Linked DNA regions of Homo sapiens: all the other regions are linked to region 2. The links come from fine-mapping of genetic effects on gene expression. A gene starts in region 2. Each other region holds a variant in brackets. All regions are shown on one strand. Distances are between the middles of the regions.

Evidence for each region. PIP is the estimated chance that this variant, and not a neighbour inherited with it, causes the effect.
Region 1: its variant is fine-mapped to the expression of LASP1NB in blood mononuclear cells (TOPMed, PIP above 0.99).
Region 3: its variant is fine-mapped to the expression of LASP1NB in whole blood (TOPMed, PIP above 0.99).

The regions. Positions count from the first base shown.
Region 1 is chr17:38,997,152-38,999,905 of GRCh38, forward strand. No RefSeq gene overlaps it. Among named protein-coding and RNA genes, the nearest start is that of LINC02079, 29 kb to the right of the region's middle. The variant A/T (reference allele first, on the strand shown) is at 1,084.
Region 2 is chr17:38,924,030-38,926,783 of GRCh38, forward strand. It overlaps LASP1NB (LASP1 neighbor), which reads left to right and starts at 1,585. Exons shown (of 2, transcript NM_001414697.1): 1 at 1,585-1,862; 2 at 2,388-2,754. The coding sequence starts at 1,665. The coding sequence ends at 1,742.
Region 3 is chr17:38,868,977-38,871,730 of GRCh38, forward strand. LASP1 (LIM and SH3 protein 1) reads left to right here and starts at 1,082. Exons shown (of 7, transcript NM_006148.4): 1 at 1,082-1,282. The coding sequence starts at 1,214. It overlaps TRC-GCA4-1 (tRNA-Cys (anticodon GCA) 4-1), which reads right to left and starts at 387; the gene lies at 316-387. RefSeq lists silencers at 812-1,121, 1,642-1,741 and enhancers at 1,182-1,331, 2,344-2,754. The variant G/C (reference allele first, on the strand shown) is at 1,566.

The DNA of each region.
Region 1 (2,754 bases), 73 kb after region 2:
AGTTTTCTGACTCTTTTGTCTGTTTCTTTTCTTTTCTTTTTTTTTTTTTTTTTGAGATGGAGTTTCGCTCTTGTTGCCCAGGCTGGAGTGCAATGGCATGAATCTCAGCTCACTGCAACCTCCACCTCCTGGGTTCAAGCAATTCTGCTTCAGCCTCCCAAGTAGCTGGGATTACAGGCGCCTGCCACCACGCTCAGCTAATTTTTTGTATTTTTAGTAGAGATGGGGTTTTGCCATGTTGTCTAGGCTGGTCTTGAACGCCTGACCTCAAGCAATCTACCCGCCTCGGCCTCCCAAAGTGTTGGGATTACAGGTATAAGCCACTGCGCCCAGCCTCTTTTGTCTGTTTCTAAGATCTAGTCTCTGTCTTCAGTGCTCTGCAATTTTATTATAATGTGTTGAAATGTGGATTTCCTTTTATTTCTGTTATGAAGTTACTGAGGTTCTTGAATCTGGGTATCTTATTTTCCATTTATTTTCTTTCTTTCCCTTCCTCTCTCTCTTTCTTTCCCTTCCTCTCTCTCTTTCTCCCTTCCTTCTCCCCTCCCTTCCCCTGCCCTCCCCTTTCTTTTTCTTTTTTTTTGACAAGGCCTTGCTCTGTTACCTAGGCTGTAGTGCAGTGGTGCAATCACAACTCACTGCAACCTCCACCTCCAGGCCTCAAGCAATCCTCCTGCCTCAGCCTCCTGAGTAGCTGGGACTACAGGCATGCACCACGACACCTGGCTAATTTTTGTGTTTTTGCAGACACTAGGTCTCACTATGTTGCCTAGGCTGGTCTCAAACTCCTGGCCTCAAGCAATCCTCCTGCCTTGGCCTCCCAAAGTGCTGGGATTACAGGTGTGAGCCCATAATCCCAGCAGTGAGATTACAGATACAGTGCCCGGCTCATTTTCCATTTATTTTTCTCACTGTGCTGTCATCTGCATCATTTCTTTCACTCTGTTTTCTCTGCTTTTTTTCACCCCTTCTTCCTCTGAACTGCCTTCTCTTTTCAGTTGTGTCTAACCTGCTATTAAATCTGTCCAATGAATTTAAAATTTTTATTACTATATTTTTCATCTCCAGAATTGTATTTTTTTT[A/T]AAAAAAACTGCTTGGTCATTTGTATATTCTTTTATTATTAATTCCATTTGTCTGTCTTTCTTTTTCTTTTTCTTTTTTTTTTTTTGAGACAGAGTCTTGCTCTGTCACCCAGGCTGGAGTGCGGTGGCACCATCTGGGTTCACTGCAACCTCCGCAGTCCCGGGATTAAGCGATTCTCCTGCCTCAGCCTCCCGAGTAGCTGGAACTACAGGCATGCACCACCATGCCCAACTAATTTTTGTATTTTTAGTAGAGACAGGGTTTCACCATGTTGGCCAGGATGGTCTCCATCTCTTGACTTCGTGATCTGTCCACCTCGGCCTCCCAAAGTGTTGGGATTACAGGTGTGAGCCACCATGCCTGGCCTCATTTTTATTTCTTAAAAGCTCTAAAATAGTAATTTTATGTCATGTTTCTGATAATTTCTATATCTACAGTCTTTGTAGGTCTGATTCTGCTGTCTATATTTCTGCTTCTTTTGCTCATGGTGCCTAGTTTGTTTCGGTTTTGTGATTTTTGATTCTGTGGTTATTTTTATCAAAACTATATGTGGGAATTTTTTGAGGCCTGAGATAAAGGTGGGTTCTTCTAGAGAGAATTGCATATGCTTCTTCTAGCACTTTAGGTACTTAGGACCACTTTGTTTTATTTTATTTATTTATTTATTTATTTTTGAGGTGGAGTTTCACTCTTGTTACCCAGGCTGGAGTACAGTGGTGCCATCTTGGTTCACTGCAACCTCCGTTTTTTGGGTTTAAGTGATTCTCCTGCCTCAGCCTCCCGAGTAGCTGGAATTACAGGTGCCTGCCACCAAGCCCAGCTAATTTTTGTATTTTTAGTAGAGATGGGGTTTCATCATGTTGGCCAGGCTGGTCGCAAACTGCCGACCTCAGGTGATCCACTTGCCAGGTGATCCACTTGCCTTGGCCTCCCAAAGTGCTGAGATTATAGGCGTGAGCCACCACACCTGGCCCTTAGGACCACTTTAAATTAAAATCTCTGCTGGAGGCTTTTCAGACGATTCGACCCTGTGAAACTAAACTGCAAATTGTTAGGACTAGCTTTTATATCTTTTTCAGGAGTTCTTTTTCACTTTTTTTTTTTTTTTTGAGATGGAGTCTTGCTCTGTCACCCAGGCTGGAATGCAGTGGCGCAATCTTGGCTCACTGCAAGCTCCGCCTCCTGGGTTCACACCATTCTCCTGCCTCAGCCTCCGGAGTAGCTGGGACTACAGGCGCCTGCCACCACGCCTGGCTAATTTTTTGTATTTTTAGTAGAGATGGGGTTTCACTGTGTTAGCCAGGATGGTCTCGATCTCCCAACCTCGTGATCCACCCGCCTCAGCCTCCCAAAGTGCTGGGGTTACAGGCGTGAGCCACCACACCTGGCCCTTTTTCACTTTTATGTAGTACCAAGAACCAAGGCCATTTTGGCTATAGCCCCTTGTGGTCAGATGTATTTCTAGTTTAGCCTAATAGTAAGGGTATAGCTTTAGGGTCTCACCTGTGTGAGAGAATATGCAATTAGAATCTCCATCTTGGGCAGACCTTGAGTTCTGTCTTCTGTCCCTGGAGCTCCTTAAGGTCTTAAAAACTGAAAGCTACTGGTTTGGCAATTGCTCTGTTTATCTCTCTGGGTATCTGTTGTCACATGGTTTGGCTGAATATTCC
Region 2 (2,754 bases):
GAGGGGTCTCTGGTGCTCGTCCTGTAGGTGGATCGATGTGAAAGCAGTCCACTGCAAGCTGAGCAGTGCACGTGGGGTGTAGGGGCCTTCCGGACCAACAGGGGGAGCAGTGTGGCGCAAGAGGAAGAATATGGACTTTGGTGTCAGCATGCCTAGTTTTGAATCCTGGTCTCTGACATTTTTAATTAATTAATTAATTATTTTGAGACGGAGTTTCACTCTTGTTGCCCAGGCTGGAGTGCAATGGCACAATCTCAGCTCACTGCAACCTCCACCTCCCAGGTTCAAGCGATTCTCCTGCCTCAGCCTCCTGAGTAGCTGGGATTACAGGCATGTGCCACCATGCCCAGCTAATTTTGTATTTTTAGTAGAGCTGGAGTTTCTCCATGTTGGTCAGGCTGGTCTTGAACTCCTGACCTCAGGTGATTCACCTACCTCAGCCTCCCAAAGTGTTGGGATTACAGGCATGAGCCACCACACCCAGCCTTTTACTTTTTATTTTATTTATTAATTTATTTATTTTTGAGACGGAGTCTCGCTCTGTCACCCAGGCTGGAGTGCAATGGCACGGTCTCAGCTCACTGCGACCTCTGCCTGCCGGGTTCAAGCAATTCTTTAGCCTCAGCCTCTTGAATAGCTGGGATAACAGGCACCTGCCACCACGCCCGGCTAATTTTTATTTTTATTTTTTTTTTGAGACAGAATCTTGCTCTGTAGCCCAGGCTGGGGTGCAGTGGCGCGATCTCAGCTCTGCCTCCCGGGTTCAAGCAATTCTCTGCCTCAGCCTCCCAAGTAGCTGGGATTACAGGCATGCACCACCAAGCCTGGCTAACTTTTGTATTTTTAGTAGAGACAGGGTTTCACCATCTTGGCCAGGCTGGTCTTGAACTCCTGACCTTGTGATCCACCTGCCTCGGCCTCCCAAAGTGCTGGGATTATAGGCATGAGCCACTGCGCCCGGCTGGTCTCTGACACATCTAAGCTATGAACCATTAGGGTAAGTTTCTGACCATCTCTGAGCCCCATCTATGAAAGACTCATAGGGAGGTTGAAATTGCACCACATGTACGATATCTGGCCCAGTGTAGGAAATGTATAAATGTTAGCTTCATCCCTCAGGGAAGCCCACTGAGATCCACACGAAACTTTTGTCTGTGTCTCCCCATAATGTGACCTTTAGAAGTTGCCAATGGCCCACCCAATACCCAACCATGATTTTTCTGAGATAATCTGCCCGAGGTGTGTGAGAGGAAACGCGAAGAAGGCAGTCAGGAGGATTCACTCTTGGGGGAGCTGGGTAGGATCCTATCTCCTCCTACATCCAGAGCATGCAGGCTCCATTTAGATACAAAGGGGTGGGATTGGGTTCCTGGGGAGAAATTGAGCCCCTTTGATTCTGCGGTTCTGTGGGTCTAAATCTGGCATCTCCTTGGCTATCCACCCCCAGGCTTTGTGATTGGTTGGCTGTGGTTGGTGGGGGGGCAGGAAGCTGCTGGTGGAGCTGCAGCATCCTTCAGTCTCAGGCCCCTGGGAGGGGGAGGGGAAAGAACCAGGGCTGAGCTGTGGAGTGAAGGGGAGCCATTTCTCTCCACCGACTGCAACCTCCGTGCTCACAGCTCACGGTTCACCAGAATCCAGGGGCTTGGTCGGCCTAGGAATCCACAATGCTGGATATTTTCATCCTGATGTTCTTTGCCATCATAGGCCTGGTCATTCTGTCCTACATTATCTATCTGCTCTAGTGGCCTGGAGCTGCGGCCGGAGCCTGCTGGAGAACAGCTCAGAAGGAAGGATGGAGATGAATGGCCGAGTGCCCTGCTTGCTGACGCACCGGTGGATTTTTGCTTCTGCTGTTATCTCGGGTATTGATTCCAAAAAAAAAAGAAAAGAAAAAAAGAAAGAGTTTGCTTTCCTATTTTTTTTCTTAGACCACTCTGAAAAGAATAAGAAATGCCAGCTTCTTTCTTTGGGACCTAATTTAAAATAAGACTTTAAAAATTACAAATAAAATCCACAATGTAAACGATTTTTAGGCAGAACGGGTTGGGAATGATGGATGTGGTGGGGAGGGACTATTATTTCCTAATTTCTTCTTCAAGTTAGGTGCTCAAACTCAAGTTGTCTATTTTCTTCTGGTAATTAAAGGTAAAACACATCTTTGCATGTCAGCATACTTGCAATATAGTTGTTTACAACTATGCTTGTATAATTGCATTACTTAATGATTGACTCATTCTTATTTGAGGGTGAGACGGCAAATAAATTTTACTTGGGGTGGGGTTTTCGGGGAGATGTCCAACTGTGGGATATGGTGGAGAGGAGGGAGGAACTCCTGGTACTTTGCAGTTGTCCCCATCTGAGACTTTTTATTTCTGGGTTTCTTACAGCTCCTGGTCTCTCCAGTCCAACAAGAGGCCTCTCATCCACAGAAGCAGTCCTACTGCCCAGCAGACCTCTTTCAGAGCCTTCCAGACATGGCTGACCCCTGGCAAGCAAGGGGCTTTTTGAGCTGAGAGGCACTTGGCTGGGACTTCAGGAATTCATGGACAGGGCTGGCAGATACTGCATATGTTTGAGCTGTAGATGGGATTGAGAACAGAAAGTTGAAATGGAGACTTATTAAAGTTACCGTGGAGAACTGCTCAAAAATTCATTTTGAATTAAGGAAACTTAAATTCATTTTAAGTTTCCTTAGATCTAAATGCAACTGCACATTACACTCAAATATGTTCCTTCCTTCTCACACACAGGACT
Region 3 (2,754 bases), 55 kb before region 2:
CCCTACCCCCATTGGAAACATCCTGTCCCTCAAACCCGGCACCTCGAACTGTCTGACCCATCTGAGGCTGGCGCCCGTGGCCGCAGAAATCCCTACACCTCTGGCGCGAGTAATGCGGTCGCGCAGCTTTTATACCCACCCCCTCCTCCCGCTGAGCACAAAGTAAAACCGAAAGATTTCTGCTAAGGTTGAAAAATGAGGAAGATACTTTTTCTTTTCTTTTTTTTTTTTTTTTTAGTCAGGACCCAATGTTAAAATGTGAGTCAAGAATGAAAAACAGATGGTTAACAAGGGGAAGGAAAAACCAAGCCATTGAGGGGGCACCCGGATTTGAACCAGGGACCTCTTGATCTGCAGTCAAATGCTCTACCACTGAGCTATACCCCCGCGCCTCTACAGCGCCTGGAGGCGGCTCCTTGGGTGCTAAGCATTGTTGCAGCTGCTACACTGTGAGTAGTGGTGTAACAGAAGGAGAAAGGAATGCTGGAGAAAAAGGGGTCAAGCTGAACGCAGACGGTGCCCGCATCCGGGGAACCCCGGGAAGGTGCACTGCAGGGGCTCGAGAGGGAAGCACTAGCCCGGGCCCGGCAGCGCGCAGGGTCCAAGAGGGAGGGACGGGTTCCGCCCCACAAATGTGGGAAAGGGTGTGGGCCGGAAGAGAGCTAAGAGGGGCAGGGTAGGGGGTCCCCGTTCGGTCCGCAGATTCATGCCGGGTAGAAAGTCCCCGAATGCGGTGAATCAGTTCCAGCGTTCAGGAGGATCCAACCCCACCCTCGACGGGCTTGAGGGGTTAGCCCGCCTCCCGCAGCCCGGGCGCCCCAGATGTGCAGCCTGCTCGCCTCTGCGCCGCCTCCGGCTGGGGAAGGGCCCTGGGCACCGGGCGCAGTCAGCCTGAGAGCGCTGAGGCGCCAGCACCGCGGGCCCCGCCGTCCCCCCAGGAACCCGCCCCCGCGCAGCCCCACGTCGCCCGGAGAGCGCGCCTCGCTGCGCGTGCCCTTGCCCGCGCCCGAGGCGCGTGCCCGCCCCAGTGCAGCCCCTCCTCCCCGCTGTGTTTATTAGGGGAAGGAGGGCGGAGGCGGAGGCCAGTTCCCCAGCTCCAGCCGCCGTCGCTGCTGCCTGTGTAGTTGCAGCCGCGGCCGCCTCCCGCCAGCTCGCCTCGGGGAACAGGACGCGCGTGAGCTCAGGCGTCCCCGCCCCAGCTTTTCTCGGAACCATGAACCCCAACTGCGCCCGGTGCGGCAAGATCGTGTATCCCACGGAGAAGGTGAACTGTCTGGATAAGGTGAGCCCGGGACCGGGAGACGCGTCTTTGCAATCCCCCGCAGTGCTCCGAATCCAGGGAGGAGAGAAGGGCCGGGTCTTTGCCGCCTTATCCCCGCGATCCCAGGAGAATGGAGGGAGGGCGAGCGGGCGGTGTCATGGGGTGTGGGGACACATCCCAGTCTGAAAACCAGGAGATCTGGGGCGAGGCGGGAAGTCCACGCGTAGCGGGCAGCCGCTGCTGGAGAGGGGTGGGCTCTGTGTCCCGGGGTTGGGAGGACGGGAGAGGAGCAGGGAAGTCAGGC[G/C]CCGGGGTGTGTTGGGGGAAGGTTAGGGGTGCAGTCCCGCCCCCTACGGCCTGGAGAGTGAGAAGAGACGGCCGCTCCCTCTCCGCTCTGCGCCGAGCGCCAAGTAGGCGGAAGCGCGGGGCGCTGGTGGAGGGGGCGGGGGGGCGGGGCAGAGGCTGGGGGGCCCTGCAAAACCGTCCGCTCCGGCGGGGGTGGCCTGGCTTCCTGGCCTGGCGGGGCGGGGGCTATCAGCCTGCGAGTGTGTGGCATCTGATGCGGGGGGTTTTGGGTAAGGACCCGGGCTCTGCCGCAAGAGCCCCGTTTTTGAACGACCTGCACCCCCTTGGATTCAGTCGTTAAAGGACTCGCAGACCTCCTCCACAGCTTCCCAACCCCCACCTCCAATTAAAAGCCAACTCCCGGTGCTGGGCCGTCCAGCCTGAGCCGGGTGGGGTTGGGTGGCAGAGTAGGGTGGGTGGAGGGTGCTTAGCTGAGATCTCCTGAAATTGTGCTCAGAGCCAGGAGACCGTGTGGAAGAACAAAGAGCTAACTTTTCAAAGCAGGTTTCTCCAATGGAGGGTGGGGTTGGCTGAGTTCTGGGGAAGCCGAGGAAAGGGGGAGGTATTGGGGGGAGGGGAGGGTGGCCTTGTGGAGATTCAGTGTCCCCTGGGGGCCCTGTCTCCCCAATGCTGGACTTGTTCATCTGGTTGCCATTAGACTTTTGGAGGGGGGTTGGAGAGTAGAACTGGGTGTTTCCCGTACAGTTTAGGGTAGGATCCTGTTCTCTTGTAAGCTCCGTAAGATCCTAAGGTAAAACCTGCCCCTCTGCATCCCCTCCCCAGTCTGGAGGGGAGGCCTCTGTGATTTTGTGCCCTTCCTCACCGCGTCTTTCATCCACCACCCAAAGCTGGCTCCAAGTCCAAGTATTCTGTCCTTTCCATCTGAACTGGGAGGGCTGGGAGGACTGGATGGAAGAGAGGTGCAAGGGTGGGAACACTAGATGAAAGAGGGGTATAGAGCCCTGGGGCCAAGTTCATTACTGACCTGGAGCCAGGTTTTGTTCAGGAGAGGATAGTTTATTGGACACCTTATCTCTCCCCTCCCCCTTGGTGTGTGAGCTTCCTCAGTGACCTTTGGCCTCTGAGTCAGCGTGAGGAGGTGGGGTTGGAGGTTCTGAAAGATATTTGAACTTGCTCTTGGGGAGTGTGGG